Linked DNA regions of Homo sapiens. The protein of the gene in region 2 purifies or fractionates together with the protein of the main gene of each other region. This does not show direct contact. Each region holds a gene or a part of one and is shown on either strand. Other genes may lie near its edges. The genes, in order: SNTB2, DTNB and UTRN.

Region 1 (7,362 bases), on a different chromosome or scaffold from region 2:
CTGAAAACTTTAAAGACTAAACTTAAAATCTGTCTTTTAAAAGTGGCCTACCTGGATGGGACACCAGCTCTCAATTTTAAATAATGTTTGACTGGTTCAATTAAATCATTGTTTTCAGTGGTTTTACATATTTTGAGTAATTTTATTTTTACACCCAGTGGCTTGAAAATGCAATGTCGTAAATCTACTATATTGACTTCCTCACTACTTATAAGAACAAAAACTGCTTGTCTTGTACAAAGTGGGAAAATAAAGTAGAACCTGCATGTTAGGTAAAAAGGCATTCAATAAACATGTTATTATGCGGCCATCTTTCTAAAAGCACACGTGGCCTATTTTAGCCCAATAAAGACTGGGAAGCATTTACTGCAAGGTTTTCATTTTACTGGTCTGAATACTAGGTTCAAACTATACCTATACAAAAAGTAGGTTGGTTGTTTGTTTTTGAGATGGAGTCTTGCTCTGTCATCCAGGCTGGGCATCCATGCTGGAGTGCAGTGGTGAGATCTTGGCTCACTGCAGCCTCCACCTCTGAGGTTCAAACGATTCCCCTGCCTCAGCCTCCCTAGGAGCTGGGATTACAGGCATCTGCCACCACGCCTGGCTAATTTTCGTATTTTTAGTAGAGACGAGGTTTCGTCATGTTCTCCTGACCTCAGGTGATCTGCCCACCTTGGCCTCCCAAAGTGCTGGGATTATAGGCATGAGCCACCACGCCTGGCCAAAAGGTTTTTTGTGTTTTTTTTCTAAATATGGTGTACAAGGTTCAACTGTCTGCCCATCACAACTGAGGACTACATAAATAGTACTAAATTCAATATTCTGGATGTAAGAATTTATAACCAAATGCTTAGCTAGACCAACTTCAAGGTACACGTTTAGAGTAACAGTTTTTTTTGGACACACACCCAAACCACAATCTATAATTTTACTCCTTCTATTAACACTAATTTCCGAGCAATGTCTAGCCCCACCTAGACATGCAATATAAATAAGGTTTATAAATAGGATATTATAAAGGTGGGACACTGGAACTTCACAACTGGTGTACATGAAATCATTTCTGGTAAATCAGTATTTTTCCAAATATTCACAAGCTGATTTATAAGAAAGTGAAAATCCATTGTGCCAAGTTGGACTTCTGGCCTCTCGGTTTGACGATTGGTCCTTCTTCACCAGCAGCCCCCAGCCCTTCCCTTCTGTCCTTCCTCTGCCAGGAATACCCTCCTGACTCATCCCTGCCTGCCTATGTCCATCACTTCTTGGAGACCTGGCTCAAGATTCAGCTTCGGGAAAAAGTCCTCCCTGGCTAATTCCATCTCCACTAACTATTTTCTAACTTTGCATTCCTTTGGCATTTAAGTATAGTTTCACGACGTAATCACCAACTTCATTCCTTTCCTCCCTATAAGTTGTTTTGCATTTTTCTATCATTTCTCCAACTAGAGACCAAGTAGGGACAGCATCTTCTTTTATATTCTTTTCAACACAGCTAGCCATAATCACCAGTGAAAGAAAGCTGACCGCTCAAAAATTTCTGAAGAAAGCAGCTGACTTTTCGTTTATAATTTACAATACTCTATCACCTCCAACATGCATGAGTCCTTAGAGGAGAGGAATTTTATTTTTGCCTTAGTTCAAATTCATCATGAAAGATCCAACTTACAGATCACATACATATAACTTAACGTAAAGAATAATCCTGGTTATTGAAACCTATCTTGTGATTTGCCATTTCAAGTTTCTTACAAAAACCCCAAGAGTCTTGAAGCAGCGCGCCTGTGAGTGGTAGGAAGCTGGCAGCAGACTTGCAAAAGGGGCAAAACTCTAGTTGGCAGTAAATGTTCAAACACGTGAGCCTCCACTGTTAAACAAGGTTCGTTAACCACACAGACTTGCTGTTTCAGCTTTCTGGCTTCAATGAAATGCTATGATCTCCTTTGGTTATTGTTGAGAGCCAATGATGGGTTAAATTCCCATAAATTAACCAGCGCTTTGGTGGTTTGCCCGAGCATACCGCTGGCATCGGTGAAGATGGACTTTTTTTTTTTTTTAATAGACCCGCCCGCCCCGAGGAGCCAGAGGTGAGTGAGTTAAGCGCCAACCCGGCACTTCTCAGCGGGCAAACGGAGACAGACCCACTCGAGCCGTTCGCTCTCCCTCAAGTTCTTAGTGTCAGCTTATCGGGCCGAGGTGGGGCTTCATAGGCAGCTGCTTTTTACTCAATCTCAGCCGAGTCTTCCCTAGGGGCTGCAAGCCACACTTCGGCGGCTGCCCAACTTTTCCTGCAAGAAGCATCCGTTTTTCCACACTGAAAGCTCCAGAAACCCGGGTTTGGAGAGAGACGGGGAGAGAACCGGCTCGCCCCGCCGGCGGGGCAGGAACAAAGTGAGCTCCCGCGAGCCCAGGCCGCCGCGGCCTGCCCACCCTCCCGCCCGGCCCCGCTCACCCTCCAGCAGCACCTCCTTGCCCGCGCGCTTCAGCGCCTGCACGGCCTGGTCGTGGGTGGCCTGGCGCAGGTCGGTGCCGTTCACCGACAGGATGGCGTCGCCCAGCCGCAGCGCCCGGCTCTGGTCGGCAGCCAGCCCGGGGAAGATCTTGGAGATGAGGATCGGCATCCGGTTCTCGCGGCCGCCCTTGATGCTGATGCCCAGGCCGCCCGCCTCTTGCTTCACCACCCGCACCCGGCGCACGGGCGGCGACGCGCCCGCCTCACCCGCGGGGCCCCGAGGCGGCGCCGGCGGGCTCGGGGGCCCCAGGCCGCGGCTTGGGCTCCCGGGCAGCGAGTCGCCCGCGCCGCCGCCGTTTGGGAGGCCGTTGAAGGCGGCGGCCGCGGGTCCCAGAGCGGGCTCCAGCTCGGCCGCGGCGGCGTCGCCCGTCAGGCTCAGGCTCTCCCCGCTCAGCTCGGCCACCACTCGGACCCAGCGCTCCCTCAGGAGCAGCTCCACCAGCCCCGCTTTGGTGGCCCGCGTCCACACCGCCATGGCCGGCCCCGCTCCAGCCGCCGCAGTCGCCGCAGCTACCCTCATTCCAGTCAGGCAGCCTCGGCGCTTCCCTCTTCCCGCCCGGAGGGGCGGGCCCGGCCCCTCCCCCGCACGATTCATTATTCATGAGGCCACGCCTGCCTCTGGAGGGGCGGGGCCGGCGCAGCCGCTTCCGGGAGGTGCAGAAGTTGTCCGATCACTCGCCTCTCGCCGGACGTGGGCAACCCGAATGCGGTGGGACTGCATTTCTCCTCATCCTTCCATTGGCTCCCCACGGACCCCCCAGAAACTCCTGACCTCTACCGTGCAATTCACGGGAGCTGCCCGGGCACGGAAAGCAAAATCAGCTTGGAGAAACACTTCTCAAGCCTGCAAGACCCGGTGGCACGTTCATTCTTGCATTGATTGGTTCGTACCCTGTGTACTGAGCGCTTAGCCCTGTACTCCGGCTCCTTTTGAGGCCCTGTACTTAAGCTCAATAGTACCAACAACAGCTGAGAGTTTGCGGTCTAGTGGGGAAGGAAAATGCAGAACCAACCAACTAGGTGTGATACTATGTGGTTAAGTGACATGCAGAAGACGTCCCCAGAACAGCATAAAAGGAACATTTGGTTAGGCCTGGGGTCAGCTTCACAGAGGTAACAACGGACGGTGAACAGCTCAAGCAAAGGTCCAACAGCATGATCCAAGCCTTTGTCAATGTTTTGTAATCTCGTTTACTTGCCTGTAATTCAAGAGGGAACCATGTCTTCTTAAACCCTGAAGCCACAATTGGCAGGCCTCAAGGATATTTGCAGAATGATGGTGTCTTAGGGTTCTTCAGAGAAACCAACCAATAGGATATATAGAGATATATAAATTTATTATTATTACAAGGGACTGGCCACGAGATTATGGATGCTGAGAAGTCCCACGATCTGCCATCTGCAAACTGCAGGCCCAGGAAAGTTGGTGGTGCACTTCCAATCCAAGCCCAAAGGCCTGAGACCCAGAATCAGTGGTATAAACCTGAGATTGAAAGTCTGGGCCGGGCGCGGTGGCTCAAGCCTTTAATCCCAGCACTTTGAGAGGCTGAGGTGGGCGGATCACCTGAGGTCACGAGTTTGAGACAAGCCTGACCAACATGGAGAAACCCCATCTCTACTAAAAATACAAAAAATTAGCCGGGCGTGGTGGCACATGCCTGTAATCCCAGCTACTTGGGAGGCTGAGGCAGGAGAATTGCTTGAACCTGGGAGGCAGAGATTGCGGTGAGCTGAGATGGCACCATTGCACTCCAGCCTGGGCAACAAGAGCAAAACTCTGCCTCAAAAAAAAAAAAAAAAAAAGAAAGAAAGAAAGAAAGAAAAAGAAAGTCTGGGCCGGGTGCAGTGGCTTACACCTGTAATCCCAGCACTTTGGGAGGCCAAGGCGGTGGATCACCTGGGGTCAAGAGTTATAGACCAGTCTGGCCAACATGGTGAAACCCCGTCTCTACTAAAAATACAAAAAATTAGCCAGGTGTGGTGGCAGGCGCCTGCAATCCCAGCTACTCAGGAGGCTGAGGCAGGAGAATCGCTTGAATCCGGGAGGCAGAGGTTGCAGTGAGCCAAGATTGCACCACTGCACTCCAGCCTGGGCAACAAGAGCAAAACTCCATCTCCAAAAAAAAAAAAAAAGTCTGAGCCACACGCGGTGACTCACGCTTGTAATCCCAGCACTTTGGGAGACCGAGGCAGGCAGATCACTTGAGGTCAGGAGTTCGAGTCCAGCCTGGCCAATGTGGTGAAACCCCCGTCTCTACTAAGAATACAAACATTAGCCAGGCATGGTGGTGGGCCCTTATAATTCCAGCTACTCGGGAGGCTGAGGCAGAATTGCTTGAACCCAGGAGGTGGAGGTTGCAGTGAGCTGAGATCGCACCAGTGTACTCCAGCCCGGGTGACAAAGCAAGACCCTGTCTCAAAACAGAAAGTCTGAGAAGGGGGTGAGGGTGGGAGTTGGGGTGGGGGGACAATGATGTAAGTCACCATCCCACTGCCAAGGCCCGAGAGCCAGGTTCACCAAAGTCTGAGGGCAGGAGAAGATGGATGTCCCAGCTCAGGCAGAGAATGAATTCCCCCTACCTCTGCCCTTTGTTTTGCTCAGGCCCTCAACTGACTGGATGCTGCCTGCCCACATTGGTGAGGGTGATCTTCTTTAGAGTCTACCGTGGAAATGCTAATCTCTTCCTGAAACACCCACACAGGTATACCCAGAGGTTATGTTTTACTAGTTACCTGGGGATCCCTTAGCCCAGTCAAGTTGACACAAAATTAACATCATAGATGGTTACTTAGGAAGATGCTAGAATTCCAATGTGAACAGAGCATAGGGTCAGTGGAAATGGGAGGATATGAGTGTGAAAAGCATCTTTTTTTTTTTTCTGAGACAAGAGTTTCACTCTTTTTGCCCAGGCTGGAGTGCAATGGCGCGATCTCGGCTCACTGCAACCTCTGCCTCCCAGGTTCAAACGATTCTCCTGCCTCAGACTCCCGAGTAGCTGGGATTATAGGCATGTGCCACCACGCCTGGCTAATTTTGTATTTTTTAGTAGAGACAAGGTTTCTCCATGTTGGCCAGGCTGGTCTTGAACTCCCGACCTCAGGTGATCTGCACGCCTCGGCCTCCCAAAGTGCTGGGATTACAGGCATGAGCCACCACGCCCAGCTGAAAAGCATAACAAAATATCGAGGAGTTTGAACTTGACTTTATAGATCTTTTTTTTTTTTTTTTTTTGAGATGGAGTCTCATTCTGTCACCCAGGCTGGAGTGCAGTGGCTTGATTTCAGCTCACTGCAACCTCCACCTCCTAGTTTCAAGCAATTCTCCTGCCTCAGCCTCCCGAGTAGCTGGGATTACAGGCGCGTGCCATCACACCAGCTAATTTTTGTATTTTAGTAAAGGTGGGGTTTCACCATGTTGGTCAGGCTGTTCTTGAACTCCTGACCTCATGATCCACCCGCCTCGGCCTCCCAAAGTGCTGGGATTACAGGCGTGAGCCACCGTGCCTGGCCGCAGATCTGACTTTCTTAGCCTGGAGGCCATGGCCTTTTGTTGGGGCAAGTGTACGTGGGCATTCCCAAAAATTGTATGCAAAATTTGGTCTCTAAGGTATTTTTTTGAAGCCTGTGATTCATCCAATTGGCAGGAAGTTTCCCTGACCAAAGGCCATGAGCCACTGCTGTGCACATTGCAGAGCCTGCAGTGGCTTTTATTCAGACATGAATGATACAACCCACCCACCTCCTCCAGCTTCATGGACTAGAAGAGCTAAGAAAACTGAGGGCCAGAGAGCCAAAGACCAAAGACCATGGCCCAAAGTCCATAGGAAGGAGGCAGAGACAACTCAGGACTACCAGCCTCTGGATCCAGGGTTATTTTCACTATACAGTACCCTTCAGACCTCAAAAATAAGGGTCCAAGCTGGGCACAGTGGCTCATGCCTATAATCCCAAAACTTTGGGAGGGTGAGGCAAGCAGATCATTTGAGGTCAGGAGTTCAAGACCAGCCTGACCAACATGGTGAAACCCCATCTCTACTAAAAATACAAAAAAAAAAAAAAAAAAAAATTAGCCAGGTGTGGTGGTACACACCCCTATCTCAGCTACTCAGGAGAATGAGGCACAAGAATCTCTTGAACCCAGGAGGCAAAGGTTGCAGTGAGCCGAGATCGCACCGCTGCACTACAGCCTGGGCGACAGAGCAAGAGTTTGTCTCAAAAAAAAAAAAAATTAAAAAAATAAAAAATAAACTAAGGGTCCAGAAAGCACACTGTTAAGAAAGCAAGTGCTCAGCAAAATCATGAGGTCAAGGTGTCCTCTAACTTTTCTTCAGCAGTAGTAGCAAAAAATCCCTGTGTTTTCATGTGGGCAGGGACAGGGGCAAGCAGAGGGAATGTGCACCAATTCCTGTAAAAGGGGCTGTAAACTTGCTTGCTCATGAAGTGCACGTTGAGGCTCGTAAACCGTGGCCGTGCACCACTCTGTGAATGCATGTTCATGTGCAGGCAGAAACTTCTGAAGAGCCTCCTGTAACAGAAGTTAAAATAATAAATGTAGAGGCTGGGAAGTGTCCAGAGCCCAAATGAAGAAAGAATTCAAAATGAGAAAAGTATCTTACCAAAAAAAAAATCATTACAGCAGAATCCTCTTTGCGATTAGTGGAGTCGGATTTTCCAAGCTGCAAATGTCAGCAAAAGCTCAACCCTCCAGCCCTCTCCTAAATCAACTGCAGAGGCCAGCTTGCTGTTCCAGCAGGTCCCAATGTGCCCAAGTGCACCTGCGGTCACAGACGTTCTGGCTCTGCTCCAGCTGAGGCGTGAGCCCCCAGAGGCCTGAGTTATGTGAAATTTCTGCT
Region 2 (7,102 bases):
TCTACTAAAAATATAAGAAAAGCCAGGCATGGTGGCACACACGCACCTGTAATCCCATCTACTTTGGAGGCTGAGGCAGGAGAATTGGTTGAACCCAGGGGACGGAGGTTGCACTGAGCCAAAATCGCACCACTTCACTCCAGCCTGGGTGAAAGAGTGAAACTCCATCTCAAAAAAAAAAAAGAGAAGACGAAAAGAAAAAGAAAAGAAAAAGTTTAAAATTTCAATGAAAGCCAGTTTATCTGTTTGGTTTTGTTTTTACATATCATGGTTTGGGTGTTTTCTTAGAGAAATTTTATAGTTTTAGCCCTTATAGTTACTATGATCCATTTTAGTTTTAGCTCTTATAGTTACTATGATCCATTTTGATTTAGTTCATATTTATTTGTATCATGGAAAGATCTCAGAAAGCATGCTAAGTGATTAAAGCAAATTGCAAAGTGATATGAGCAGTACAATACCATTCATGCAAAATTTAAAAGCGTGAAATACCATCTATTATTCATAGCTATACATGCACATATAGGTTAAAAGTTTCACAGCAGAATTTTGATAGGGGTTGCCTCTGAAGGGAGGAGAGGAAAGAACTGGAACAGGAAAGAACTGGTGGACAAAAATATTGCAAATTTTTCTGCAATATTTTTAGGTTGAAATACATTTGACACAATATGAAGTTACCAATTTGGGGTGGTTAATTATGTTGTACTTTTTAGTTTTCTGTATTTTTTTTAACTTCTCAAAATACACATACACACACACACACACACACACACACACACACACACAAATGATTCAAAGTAAGAACCACAGAAAACAATCCATTTCTGTTGAGTTTGGTGGCCACACGGTTGAAGCACTGCGGTGGGGTGTCGTGCGTCCAGCCTGTCCACCTGTTCAGGGCCAATTCTGTTTGTATATGGGGTTTCTAGCTGAGAAAGCTAGAAGAAGGATAACTGTCTTCATTTGAATTCACTCTCACACTTTGGCTTCTATTTTTTCCAGTTTTGCTTCCACAGAAAACCCTAGTCCACCTTCCACACTCAGTTCCCGTTGTGCTGAAGAGCTACAGAGCCCACATCTCAGTGAGCGGCCCTTGATTAGTTTTCTCCTTTTATTTATTTTATCCCATTGCTCCAAACTTTCTCCACAACTATACCAGGGCCTCCCAAGGAAAGCTTGGTTTCTGTTTACCATGTGTCCTTTCTCACCTCGTCCCCGCGGGGTGGCCCCGGACAGCCTTGCTGTACATGTGCAGTGCATGTGGCATGACTGGCCCCATGGCCCCGCTTGCAGCCTGCAGCCGAGCTCCGCACATGCTCAGAGCATGCCCTGCAGGAAGTGGGGTCACAACCTGCAGAGTGCACACTGCCACCCTTGGAGTCAAGGGGTTGTTCCCATGCCTCCCACTGGCAAGCTGTGTGGCCTGACACAACGTCTCTTTCCATTCTTCTTCTTCTATAAAATGGACATAAAAATATATACCCTGGCTTGGTATGGTGGCTCACACCTGTAATCCTAGCACTTTGGGAGGCGAAGGCGAGCAGATTGCATGAGCTCAGGAGTTAAAGACCAACCTGGACAACGTGTTGAAACCCCGTATCTACTAAAAATACAAAAAATTAGCCCAGCGTGGTGGCGCACACCTGTAGTCCCAGCTACTCGGGAGGCTGAAGCAGGAGAATCTCTTGAACCTGGGAGGCGGAGGTTACAGTGAGCTGAGATCGTGCCACTGCACTCCACCTGGGCAACAAAGCAAGACTCTGTCTCCAAAAAAGATATATACGTATATAAATATATACATACACACACACACACACACACACACACGTATGTCCTTTCCACTCACAGGTTGCCGGCAGCAGCGGGGGGAGGGGTCCAAATGAGAACATGTACATGAATGTGTTTGCAAACAAAATGAAAGCTGTTTGCATGTTACTTCCTGCCCTGCAAGCCAAGCCCTTCTAGAGCCCTGGCCCAGTCACGCAGCTCACTCTGTCTCCACCACTCTGTGCCAGCCTCTTCTTTCCCTCCCATTCTTGGTCTTGTTCTTAGGATGTTCTCTCTCTCTGCCCTGCACGCCCCCTTCCTTTTTTCCTTTTCTTCCTCTCTCCAGTCTTGGAAGCAGCCTAACTCCTTCCTTTCAAGTATGATCTTGTACCACTGAACTGAGGCCCACTGGCTGGCTCTGGTTGATGGAGAAAAAGTACTTTCTTCCTTCCTCAAAGAGGTCAGGTACTTGAGATAACGTATTTTCTGTCTTTGAATCTCCAGGCTCAGGCCACAGGGTCACCACATACATCGCCCACCCATGGAGGCGGCCGGCCAATGCCCATGCCAGTGCGCTCCACGTCTGCCGGCTCCACCCCCACCCACTGTCCGCAGGACTCGCTGAGCGGAGTCGGGGGAGACGTGCAGGAGGCCTTCGCACAAGGTGAGTTTCTGGAGCAGAGTTCAGCGGGGAGCTGAAGGGATGTGCAAACACGGACAAGATTCCTGCTGAGGTTTTTTCCATTTCTGTTTTGTGCTCTTTGCTTGGAATGATCAGATTTTGACAGACAGTGTAAATAAGTCAGGTGCTGGCCCCTTCTCATGAGACGGGCTGGTCTCCAGCGGGAGGGCTGCAGGCTTCCTATGTGTGCCAAGAACAGGCCTCCTGGGGTTCTCTGCCCTTTTTTCTGGATTATTGGAAGTGCTTTGTCCTTTGGGCTTTGTCTCCTCCAGAGGAATTGGATGGAATAATTCCCTGGCCTAGAAGGGACTGTAACAGGCACTGTAACTGGGACCGTGCTGAAAGCACAGTATGCACGCCATTGTCACAGTCATCGGGGGAGCTGGTGACCAGCAGTATTAAGTAGTTGGGTGGGGATTCAGAGGGAAGTCCTGCTGGGGCTGGAGGTGAGAAGGGGAGGTGGTAGTGGTGGTTGTGGAGAGTACAGCCCCACCCCCACAAGGCTGAGGAAGACCTCGGTGGAATGCTTATTCTGGAACCCAGCTCTGGATTGTGTGGTGGCGGCAAAGCGTGGAGTTGACAGGATGCTGCTCCCTAGGTAGAGAGGGCAGAGGGAGAGGGACCAGTGGGCTGGTGCCTCCTGCCCCCGGTGTGCCTGGGAATGGGTGGAGCTGCTGTGGCCCCATCTCCCCTTAGGTGTTCCACACCTGTGTTCTCGGGCCTGGCAGAACTGAGGCATTTGCTCAGCCGTCTCTTCTCCACGCTCACCCACCCTGGCATCCCCATCTGCTCTGCCTCTCCTCAGGTACGAGGAGAAACCTCCGCAATGACCTGCTGGTGGCAGCTGACTCCATCACCAACACCATGTCATCCCTGGTGAAGGAGCTCCATTCAGGTGAAACCCAGAGCTCCCAGCCAGCTTCCTGGCCTCCCCTGCCTTGCCCGCGCCCTTCTCACTTCCTTGCCAGCACCGGCAGAACCTCACCACCCAGCTTGCACCACCCCATTTCATCACCTAACTTTGCCTTCTAGGAACACACTGGATGTCTCCACCCAGAGAGCCTCTGTCACACAGGATCGCGTAGGGGCGGTTTCACATTCAGGCCTATCTCAGGAGTGCATCTTGTGGAGCAAGCTGAATGTAGAGAAATTCAGACCTTTCAGTGCAGGCAGGCCCCTTCCTCACTTACCTCGTCTTCCATCTGTACTTTGTCCACAGCCGCTCTCTCCCTAGGCCTGACCGACCACCTCATTCTGAAACTTCCCTGGAGGTCTGGAGCGGAATCAGCCAGGAAAGCTCTGGACCTTCCCCTGCTGCCTTTCTGCTCTCTCCTGTTTGATTTGTTTTTGAAACCTATTCCCTCCTTTTGTCCGTGACCAGGCTCTGATTTCACCTGAAGTTCATGACCTGAGTCTGTCGCCTCTTCTGCTCCTTGTGTTCAGCTCATCTGTGACTTCTTTCTCAGTCTCTCCATCACCTCACCAATTCAGTGACTTCCCAAAGACCTTTACCTCGTGGCATTTCACCTTACATAAAACCCAGGAAAGAGAGAGAAAATAAAAGGCCATTCACGTATCCTCCTATCTCCAGGAATCCCCATGACTCTACCAGTTACGTAGGGGCCAGAGAGTCACTAACGATTTCACAGCGGTGGGGTCTCCATGTTTTGTGTTAAACTAATGGTTTCCCTCCCTAAGCGCTGTAGGTCACTCACACTGATGGCTCTCTTTTGTTTCTTTCCACCTAATGTAGTGCTTTTAAATACCTTGAAGTAGCTTAACAGGATTATTAAATAAAAAGATAAAGCAGTTTTTCCACGGACGATTCAAACACATACACTTATTCAAACACTCTTAGGGAAGGCAAGCCTTGGGTATTTTTCAGCCCTTCGTAGGAGAAAGCTCACATGTTTAGGGTTGTCATGGGACTGGACAGAGCCCCCAGCTCTGCTCTCAAGTCTGCCTGTTTTCATACAGACCAAAGTGAGTGTATAGCCCAGCTTCGTCTTTCCAGTCAGTTAAGGTCAGACGCTGCCTCTCTTGTTTGATGGTGCCACCCTCTCCATTCTAGCACTGTTTCTCAACCCCCATCAGAAGCACGGCCCCGCTCTGTACACATAAACAGAAGAGGCGACAGCCTTCAGGATGACCTCACAGGTGATTAGAAGGCGCTTTCCCTAATGCAGCTCCCCACAGATGTCAGAAATCCCACTTTTAGAGGAAATTTCTCAGGGAATTTCGGGCCATGGGAATTAACTACACTTGTACTTCATGGCCACTTATTAGAGTTTATGCAAAATAAGTGGCTTCTGCGTTCATCGTGCTAGGGTGAGAGGTCATTAAATACCATTAAGTGGAAAGCACATAGAGACCAAATAGCTTCACAAAAATGTAAAGCTTATAGGAATCCTCAGCAGTGTCTCATAGTAAGAAAGGATGGTTTCAACAAAATTATGTAGTGTAATTTGGAAGGTGCCTTAGAGAGCACATTGTCCAGTCCCTTACTTTAGAGATGTAGCCTGTGCTTATCAGAAAAGTGGTCTGCCTAAGGTCGTGCAGCTTGAAGGGGGAAAGCTGGTCCTAGAACCTGGGTCTTCAGAGCATCAAGCCAGAGATCTTACTCCCCTCCAGGACAAGATAGCAAACCCAGAGTCCCAGAGGCCCCTTTCCCTGATGCTGTCCTCTCAGTCACTGAAGCCTGTAGGTAGACGTGGACCAAAGCCACACATGGCACGGTATCCCTCTAACATGCAGACATAAACTCCCTTTACATGTGAGGGTGCCAATTTCTCAGTGAATGGAATAGCTTCACCCATCACCAACATGTTTTTACTGTCTCCTTGACAGTGACTTGACAGGTTTTTGTTCCAATGAGAGGACATACTCAGATTATCTTTACATATATTCTATACAGTGTATACATACTGTATATACATAGCTTGTAGTCCTCATCTTTATAAAGTTTTTTCACAGATAATCGAATCCTAGAATTGGAAAGGATCGAGGCCACAGGCACAGTGGCTCACACCTGTAATCCCAGCACTTTGGGAGGCTGAGGCAGGTGGATCACCTAAGGTCAGGAGTTTAAGACCAGCCTGACCAACATGATGAAACCCCGTCTCTACTAAAAATACAAAATTAGCCTGGCATGGTGGTGCATGTCTGTAATCCCAGCTACTCGGGAGGCTGAGGCAGGAGAATCGCTTGAACCTGGGATGCAGAGATTGCAGTGAGCCAAGATCGCGCCGCTGTAGTCCAGCCTGGGCAATGAGCAAAACTCCATCTCAAAAAAAAAAAAAGAAAAGAAAAGAAAAAAATTGTAAAGGATGTTAGAAGTCATTTAATCCAACTCGCCACCCAATAAAACAGTCCTCTGAATATTTCCAGCGAGCTCATTCATGATCAACTCTAATCACTGGAAACTTCTTCCTCAGTGGGGAGCCAAAATCTCACTTTCTGTAACTGATTTATCCCTGTCCTCTCAAGCTACCCAGGATAAGCTCAGTCCCTCCTCTGCAGGCTCGCCTTTCACGGGTTGGATGGCAAATGACAACCCTTCCTAGTTTTCTCCTCTGTAGACTGCTACACCCAATTCCTTCAACCTTTCCAAACGTGACATGGTTTTCTCTTACCAGCCTGCTTGACCATACCAGGATGTGGCCATTTTCCAAGGCTCCTATTCAAAGTACATGCCCAGGGCCCAGCACCCTGCTCTCCATCACAGGGGATCTTGTCCCTGCAGAGCACAAGGCATCTGTGACCCTCTTGAGTGTCCCCTGGAAAAGCACCTTAGACGGCATTAGCACTTCCCACATAGCCACTTTGCACTGTGCGGTCATTTTAAGTTTATCATCAGCTAAAACATACGGAATTTTTTTTTTTTAACAGAACCCCGTGTTAATCTAGGTATTCCCCCACCATATATTGTATGGTCACTTTCTTAAACCTGAATGCAAGACATTAGATGTCTCCCTGGTCATCACCACCTGAGGGCAGACAGGCATAGAACAGAGGCACGCAACCCCACACTGCACGCCCCCAGCCCTGGTCAGGAAAGTGAGCGATGTGACCGCACTGCTCCCTTTGGGCTGTGGTCTTACGGGCTCCTATTCAGCAGTGCTGGGGCGTGGGCCGCACAAGTGCAGACTGGTGAGCTGAAGCACCCTCAGAGGCCTGCAGCCAGGAGCTGTTAGCTAGAGTTTCCTCCCAAGCCTCAGCAGTTGCTTTGTTCACCCTCCTTCTGTACTTGTCCTGTGCCGAAGGGTCACTGGCCTCCTTGGACTTGTTTTCACAGCAGAGGAAGGTGCAGAGGAAGAAGAAGAGAAGATGCAGAATGGGAAAGACAGAGGTAAAGGCAGCTCAGCAGGACTGCTCGTTTAAATGGGGAGCCCGAGCTCATGGATCAGCCGCCCCCCACTTTGTTTCTGCATTCCTCCCTGCCACCACCTTTCCCAGAGCTTTCGGACCCGAGGTCCCTGTACCTACTTTTCCCATCTGACAGTCAGGTTTTACCTTCCAGGTGACAAGGTCAGTCGATCACCAAGAGCTTCCTCATTTCCTGATCCTGGGATAGGTAGTTGGGATACAGGAAGTAGATACAAGTAGAACACAAAAGATGACCCTTTGACTGGAGAAGTTTATGATCTAGTTAAT
Region 3 (8,045 bases), on a different chromosome or scaffold from region 2:
CACCCATAAAAGAGAAAAGTCAACTGTTTACACACTACTTTATTCCATTTGCCCATTATCAGTAACACTTCTTCACTATAATGTTTCACTTGCCACTCTCCTCAAGGTGATTTTTCAAATTTTTCTCTTCTTGATAATGAAAATCCCTTACAGGTTGCAAAGATACAGCAGAAAAGGTGATCAGAGTACAGAGGAAAATGGGGAGAAAGAAGAATAACAGAAGGCTATTTAAATAGTGATAGCCACTGAGGTTACTTGCCATTAATGGCCAGAGGAATTTGAGTACACTTAAGGCAAAGGATGACTCCTTCTAATTGCCAAATGCAGAATCTTTGGTTCTCAGGAGACAGAATCAAAGTTTCACCACGAACAATGCATCCCAGTGTGACCCTCCGTCTTCCACACCTATAAAATGGAGGGAACACCATCTTCACAGAAGGCTAGGTGAGAAACTGAGAATCAATGAATGAGATGTTGCTTTAGAAGCTTCAAGCCCTATACAAATGCAATTTATTGTTACCTCTGCCCTAGATTTCCCTTCCCTCAAATGATATTCTGTAAAAGCCAGATGTTCTTACTGAAACCAATCCAGTCAAGTCGATATTCACTAACTCTCCCTTCAGAACGCTTCCGGCTGTCATATGGACCACCAAGCAAGAGTGTATGAAATAAACATAAGGTGTTTAAAAAATAAACATAAGGTGACAGCCTTAAAGACAAAACTAATGTTTCAATTTTTTAAGATTTTAGGAATTATACAATGAATATATGTATATAATTTTTATTTTGTACTATATTTTATGTATATAGCACATATATATCCAACAGTGTGCATTATGATGGAAATGCTGTGTAATGCAAACACTATTCATTAATTTACTATAGGAACCAAAACCTAGGAACGATTGAGATAGTAGAAAAGGAAGCCAAGCGGACAAGAGTTTGCTGCTCTGCTTGAAACACAGTAAAAGAAAACGGTGAGTGCCAAGAACTGCCATTTACACTCGGAAGCGCTCCAGGGAAGGTTAATACTACTGTGATTAATACTGTTTACAGAGCCAATAAATTTTAGGTAAACACCCAAAGGAGAGTTAAAGAGTTGTCTCATCGGTCCCATAAAGGCTGGTAAAAGGGGCGGGGAATGGTTCCACGCCAACCCTGTCCGTCACCGCAGAACTACCCACAAGCTTCGCATTCCTCCACCTCTCCCCTGACCCTGAGCTATCCGCAGGCTGCGTCTCCCACGCCCACCGCCAACGAACCGGGAGGGCCCAGATCGACTTCCTGAGGCCGGTGCAACTTACAAAGGAATGGATGCGGTCGCTGCCGCCCGGCCGGGCGGCCGGGAGGGTCGGCTCAGACCTAGGGAATCCGGCCTCCCCCGAGCTCCGCGCGCTCTGGCCGCGGCGACCGCTGCACTGACCCTCCCAACCGCGGCAGGGGGAACTGGCCCGCAAGGCCCTGGTGATCCGGCTGACCTGAAGGCTGGGAAAGAGGAGGCCCTGTCCTGAACACCTCAGAGAGCGGGGCCGTGGAGTTAGAACCCGAGCTCTGCAGTTCCTTGTAAAATAAAGTGCTGGTCCCACAGCTCTCTCGGAGGTCGGGCAACGTTTTCTCCCTCCTCCTCGAAAAACGCACTGGAATGAGTCCCTTTCATAATCTGAGGCTTGGAGGAAAAAATCCTTTGAACAACCTGCCATCTGAAAGTTGCACAGCCTTCAATTGGTGCTTTGTTGGTTTTTAAGTGGCCTTGAGCAACCACAGCCTCGGACCCCGGGCCAAAGCGGGGCATGAATTACCTTGTCAGTTGCAGCAAGAGATCCCCAGAGTCCGGAAAAGGAGAGCCGGCGACTGCGCGGGACTACACACCAATGGGGCGCCCCCCTCCTCCTGTCCCCTCAGTCTCTCCAGGGCCGCTGCCAGGGAGCTTGGCGATCGCGCCACACTCTCCGGAGCCCCACCCTTGGGAGCAGCAACCACCCAGAGGTCAAGCACGTTCCCCGCCGGGCGGCTGGCTGGGAAGCGCTCCGCTGGCCGCCGACCACACAGCCACCCTCTGCCCACCCTCTCCTGTGGACACCGCCGGAGCCCCGCCTTCCCCGGGCCCGGGTGTCTGTGACAGACTCTCCTAAGAGGCCACGTCCCCTCTTGCAAATCACTGGCCCAGCGCCCTGCACCGCGCGATGCACGGAGGGCGACTCTGTCACCCCGGCGGGGAGGAAGATTAGGGGAGCAGGGAGGCAGCACAGAGCTGGTCAGATAAGTTTGGATCGTTCACAACTAGTACGGATCCCAAGGACCTCCACGCCCGAGCTCTCCACGCCTCCGGCATTCTCTCTCGCACCGCGGGGAGCTAAACTGAGGCCCCGAGGAAAGGGCACGCAAAAGTTACTCCCATCTTCGACTCTGGGACTTGGGAAGCAGCTCGGGACGCCGATCCCAGGCGGAAGAACCACAGAAAGAGCCATCCTCCTCCCGGCCCCCGCCCCATTCCCTCGGGGGCTGTAGTCACATTACCAGCCCGAGGCTTCAATAATGCATGGGCTTACCTGCTGCCCGCGGGCCTCCTCGCCTGCCGGTCGCCACCGCCGCACCCCGAGCTGGCCAAGGGCTCCTCTAGGAGTTTGACACGGAGTAACCGCGGGGGTGTGTGCGAGTGTTAGTTTGGTGGTGCGATGTATTTAAAAAAAAAAATAAAGCTTGGAGAAGCAGACACGAACCGAAATTTTAAAAAAAGAAAGAAAGAAAGAGAAATTGACACCCGACTGAAAACGCCCCTTACTTGTGCAATCTTCCTGCCTGGTAGTTCCGCCAAAAACAAAACAGTCAAAGCGCAAACCTGGAAGGGGCGCGCAGGCACCAACTTTGCCAAACGCTACAGAGTTTTCCGTTTGCAGAAATGACCCAAAAGAAGGGGGGCGCCGCTCCCCGTGATTCCCCAATCGGCTTCTGGAGCCAGAGGCTCCTCCTCGCCCCTCGGCGGGAGAAAGCCCGCGGCCGGCTGCTGCTGCCCGCTTCCCTGCTCCGAGGAAAAACGACTCCACAACTTTGTGCGCGAGAGAGGCTCGCTCCTTCGGCGGCTCCTCCTCCTCCTCCCCGCTGCGGGCCTGCCCCTTTGTTGGAGCCGAGCGCTGGAGGCGGAGGAGGGAGGGTGGGGCGCAGGACCGCTGGGTCGCGCGTTGCCGCCCCCACCCCCCGGGAAGGGGCTCGCCTCCGGGCAGCCAGGGGTCCGCTCTCCAGATGAGAAGGGTGCAGATCAGCGCCAGCCCTCCGGCCCGCGCCTCTGCAGCGCTCCGGCTCCCCCTCGGCGCTCTCGCCCCGCCGCCGCCGGCCCAGCAACTTTGTTCCGGAAGATCAGCCCCACTACGTTCCCGGGTCAGCGTCTGCCGGGCCTCGGCGGTCACCGCGGCCACCGCGTCGGGAACTTGGCGCCCCAAGTCACCTGACTGCGCGCCCCGTCAATCAGCGCCGGCCCTGCGCGCCCTCCCAGCCCGCAGCAGCCCGGCTCGGCGCTTGGCTGGCCTGGGGCGCGCGCTCCAGAGTGAACCGTGCGTGCCGGGAGCCGGGAGTCCGGAGACCGAACCAGAATGGATGCCTCGAGCAGACACAATTCCCCTTATTCAGATTATCCGAAAATGTGAGTCACGTCCCCTTAGGCAAAACAGGTCTCTAGTTAGGGTGATATTTTTTTAAGAGATAAATTCCAATCTGCCTTCCAACTCACCCCATCTCAGTTTGCTGACGTTGCTGATTTTTTTTTTACCCCTAGTTCCAACCGTATATTTATTTTACATTATTTCTCTAGTGTCGTTGTTAATATTGAAAAAGAAGTTTTCTCTTACATTAGTTTGTATTACAAGTAGTGTTTGCGCTGACCTTATTTTTCTGTTTTCCAATATGCACACACAAACGCACATCTGTTATAGAGCCTGTTCCAAGCTTGAGAGGTTGACCAAAAAATATCTGGGAAGAAATGAGCTCGTGATGTGTGTGCATTTTTCTTATTTACACATTTCATTGCTCGTGTGTTCCTGTGATTCTTTTACACGATCAGCACACGTGGGAGGGGAAAGAAAACAGCAACCTGAGTTCCTAGTTCGTATTAACAGAGAAAAGGATGGTTGATACTGGAGCGCCGGTTTATTGCTGGCTTAATATTTGAGTTAATTTACGCGGCAGTAAAGATTAAACCACTAGGGGCCTTAAACTAATTTTCAGAAAGAGTTTACTCGCCTTTTGTTATAGTGAAAGTTTCCCCCATCCATCCCTAAGTGCTCCAGGGAGGGGGCAGGTAGGAGATTCCCAAAAGAGACTCTTCCTTGTAAGGTTTCTAGGACAGTTTCCTTCCTTTTGATGATTTTCTACGTATAAGCCAAATAAAATCCAAAGGATTAACTTGAAATGGGTATGATTTTATTCATTCACTTCATTCATTCATTTAACAAGCATCAGTTTAGGGCTGTCAGGTTTGCTGGTTCTGTGGGTAAAGCAAAGATAAATCTGATAGTGATCTTACCCTTAAAGAACTTGGAATGTAGTAGGTGAGATAAGACATGTAAACAAGTAAGTATATACAAGATCCGGGAGATAAATGCCATAAGAAAAGAACAGATCAAGTGCTAGCTGAGTATGGTCACATAGAGGGACTCCAGGATTTTTTCTTTCTTTCTTTCTTTCTTTTTTTTTTTTTTTTGACAGTGTCTCTCTCAGTTGCCCAGGCTGCAGTGCAGTGGCGCGATCTCGCTCACTGCAAGCTCCGCCTCCTGGGTTCACGCCATTCTCCTGCCTCAGCCTCCCTAGTAGCTGGGACTACAGGCGCCCACCACCACGCCCTGCTAATTTTTTGTATTTTTAGTAGAGACGGGGCCTCCCAAAGTGCTGGGATTACAGGCATGAGCCACCGTGCCCAGCCCCCAGGTTTTTTTTAACTGATCATTTTGCAGACACCAAAAGTTGCTTATCACTCACTGTATCCTGGTTGAGTTGATGAAACTCAGATTTTCTCCTTCAAAATAGATAATAAGGCCACATTGGAGTGTTTGATGATGTTGTCACTTAAATTAATATTTGTGACACTTTTCACAATTTACAAAGTAATACATCATTTTAGCTCAAAAATTTTGAAAAACGCACGTTTAGGGTCCTATGATTTCTGGGATTGTAAGCTGTGAGGAGATGTTTAGTCGAGCTTCCTCAACGCCTGTAAGAGATGGAACAGGAGGCCAACAAGCCACCTTCTGTGCAGGAGTGACCTGCCCCGCATATCAGCCATAGTGGCTTACAGCCAGTTACCTGGGGACCTGTGCCCTATCTGTTTCTAGCCCTTCTCTCCAGGCAGAGACTGATGCTCTTTGTAGGTAATGAGCAAAAGAGGCTAAAGAAATTCTTGTTGACTGGGTGCAGTGGCTCACACCTGTGATCCCAGCACTTTGGGAGGTCGAGACAGGTGGATCATCTGAGGTCAGGAGTTCGAGATCAGCCTGGCCAACATGGAGAAACTCTGTCTCTACTAAAAATACAAAAATTAGCTGGGCGTGGTGGCACATGCCTATAATCCCAGCTACTCAGGAGGCTGAGGCATGAGAATCGCTTAAACCCCGGGGCAGACGTTGCAGTGAGCCAAGATGGCGCTACTACACTCCAGCCTGGGTGACAGAGCAAGACTGTCAGAAAGAAAGAAAGAGAGAAAGAGAGAAATAAAGGAGGGAGGGAGGGAAGGAAGAGGAAGGGAGGGAGGGAGGGCGGAATTCTTGTTGATGGAACGATCAAGAGATCTCAAGCTGGTCCTGTGCTGGTCCTGTCCCCCAACACTTTCTTTATTTGGTAGGGAAACCACATTTGGTGGGCGATCTTGACCACAGAGGGCTATATTTCCATAAAGCACAGTGTGATCTTCCTTTATATCCAGAGAATCTAGGTGAGGCACGGTGGAGACAGGCCTCTAAGGTAATGGGCCTGCAACAAGGATGCTCAGTGGGGTTTTGTCTGCTCATCCCAAAGATCAGATCGCTGTAGAACATCTGGAGAGAATAATAGGAATGTGGCCCTGGGTCTACTGGTAACCCAAAGTCAGAATTGCCCTGCTGTCACCACAGAACTGTGAAAATTAAGGAAAATGGAGTTAGTGTCACTGCAGGATAGAAAGCCTTTGACAAAGGAGAAAATTATGATATGAGTAGTGTATATATAGATTCATATATAAAGATATATGTATATGTGTGTATAGTGTATATAGACATGATTCACATAAATATTATTCCCATACAGGGAACTGCATCCTAATATAAGAACCAAAAGGAAAACATTTGCTACTAAACTTTGTGCAAGACTATATAAATGCAGTTTTTCTTTAAACAGTAGAAACAGGGGAAAATACACAATGTATAAAAAAACAAGACACTCCTTTAGCTTTACCTTTGGTATTGACTATAATTAAAGCCCCACATACAAGCATTTAAGAGAGGAGGAAAGTTTAGGGAATTTAGCCTTTCTTATATTTTTCAGGTAAAAAAAGTATAAATCTGGAGCTTGTGTGTAATAGATACTGGATTTTTGCTGAGTATTGTTGGTAAATTCTTCAGTCAAACGTCTAGTATGTGTGCGAGTTGATAAAATTTTATCATATAAATTTTTGTAATAGAATTGAAGAAACAAAAAATAATAGCACATGAAACTTTTAGAAAATAAATAGTACAAAGGCTGAGTTCCTTACAACTTAATGCACTCAAGAATTACCCAGAGAATATATTTTAAATTCAGATTGATTGCCATTCCCCAGAAATTCTGATTGACTAGGCCTGGTGGGGCCCAGGAAGCTGCAGGTTTAACATGCCTTAGCTTTAGATCAGAATAGCTGAGGAGCCACACTTTGAGCCCCTGTGCCCTGGGGTGCTGGCCTTAAATAGGCCACTTTGGATGATTGGAGGGGTCAAGAAATTGCCCTACCAAAAAAAAATCCATACTGAATCAATCATAATTATGAAATACCCGTGATTAGCTTTATCTCTTTGAATTCAAGTGTTTCATTCGATTCGGACCACCCTGGAGGTTACCTACAATTGGTAAAACCCTAGGACTATTCCTGGCAATTTAACCTGCACAGGTGGTAGGAAGCATGGCCCAGTTCTGAGGAAATGAGGCTCTGAAGAGAAAGTTTAATGATGAGAGGACAAGGAGGACAGGAATATTGAGAATACAGGAGCTGAAATGTGGAATCCAAAGAAGCTAAGGGCAAAATAAAAGCACTAAGTTGTTGGGCAGAGAAGAGCAACTGATTGATCAAAATGGGAGAATAAAGGAAGCGCCAAAAAGAGAAGGAAGAGACGCAGAGAGGGTGGAGGATGGGAAACCCAGAGCACCACCTTCGGGGAAAACTGAACAAAACACAGTCTACGCTGAGTTTATCCTACTTATAAATTTTTCTTGGCTTAATTTAATTTGTATAATTTTATAATGTTGTTGCTGAAAAAGATTTTACAGAGTCTTTCCATCAACCCTCTGAATTTTTTTTTTTTTTTTTTTTTTTTTTTTTTTTTGAGGCAGAGTCTCGCTCTGTCTCCCAGGCTGGAGTGCAGTGGCGTGGTCTCGGCTCACTTCAAGCTCTGCCTCCCGGGTTCACACCATTCTCCTGCCTCAGCCTCCCGAGTAGCTGGGACTACAGGCGCCCACCACCATGCCCGGCTAATTTTTTGTATTTTTAATAGAGATGGGGTTTCACCTTGTTAGCCAGGATGGTCTCGATCTCCTGACCTCGTGATCCGCCCGCCTCAGCCTCCCAAAGTGCTGGTATTACAGGCGTGAGCCACTGCCCCCGGCCAACCCTCTGATTTTACAAAGAAGCAAATGAAAGATACAAAGCTGATCAGGGAATACCTTTAGGTAAAATAAAACAATCTATTGGGGGAAAGTGTCCAAATTACTGAGAAGTGAAAAGAGAAGATCCCTATGTTACATGAGTTCATTGTTAACCAGAAGAAGAGGGGAGAAGGTGGGGGAAGAAAGCGAGCGTAGCCGAAAGAGAACTGGTCTAGATTTTAGTTACCTAA

The links.
Region 1: the proteins of DTNB (region 2) and SNTB2 purify together in Homo sapiens (affinity purification with mass spectrometry; 2 studies listed by BioGRID and IntAct, with this or other methods). This does not show direct contact.
Region 3: the proteins of DTNB (region 2) and UTRN purify together in Homo sapiens (affinity purification with mass spectrometry; 3 studies listed by BioGRID and IntAct, with this or other methods). This does not show direct contact.

Annotation. Positions count from the first base shown.
Region 1 is NC_000016.10:69,182,834-69,190,195, reverse strand, and holds the start of SNTB2 (beta-2-syntrophin), read right to left. Parts: upstream 3,033-7,362; 5' UTR 3,030-3,032; coding exon 2,450-3,029; intron 1-2,449. UniProt on the Homo sapiens protein: Adapter protein that binds to and probably organizes the subcellular localization of a variety of membrane proteins. May link various receptors to the actin cytoskeleton and the dystrophin glycoprotein complex.
Region 2 is NC_000002.12:25,383,531-25,390,632, reverse strand, and holds part of DTNB (dystrobrevin beta), read left to right. Parts: intron 1-2,271; coding exon 2,272-2,431; intron 2,432-3,254; coding exon 3,255-3,344; intron 3,345-3,481; coding exon of another isoform or gene 3,482-3,534; exon of another isoform or gene 3,535-4,271; intron 4,272-4,520; coding exon of another isoform or gene 4,521-4,570; exon of another isoform or gene 4,571-4,606; intron 4,607-5,422; exon of another isoform or gene 5,423-5,567; intron 5,568-6,743; coding exon 6,744-6,797; intron 6,798-7,102.
Region 3 is NC_000006.12:144,280,326-144,288,370, reverse strand, and holds the start of UTRN (utrophin), read right to left. Parts: upstream 3,037-8,045; 5' UTR 2,550-3,036; intron 1,874-2,549; exon of another isoform or gene 1,701-1,873; coding exon of another isoform or gene 1,092-1,700; exon of another isoform or gene 417-1,091; intron 1-416. Other genes in the region: uncharacterized protein LOC124901418, read right to left, coding at 1,092-1,700.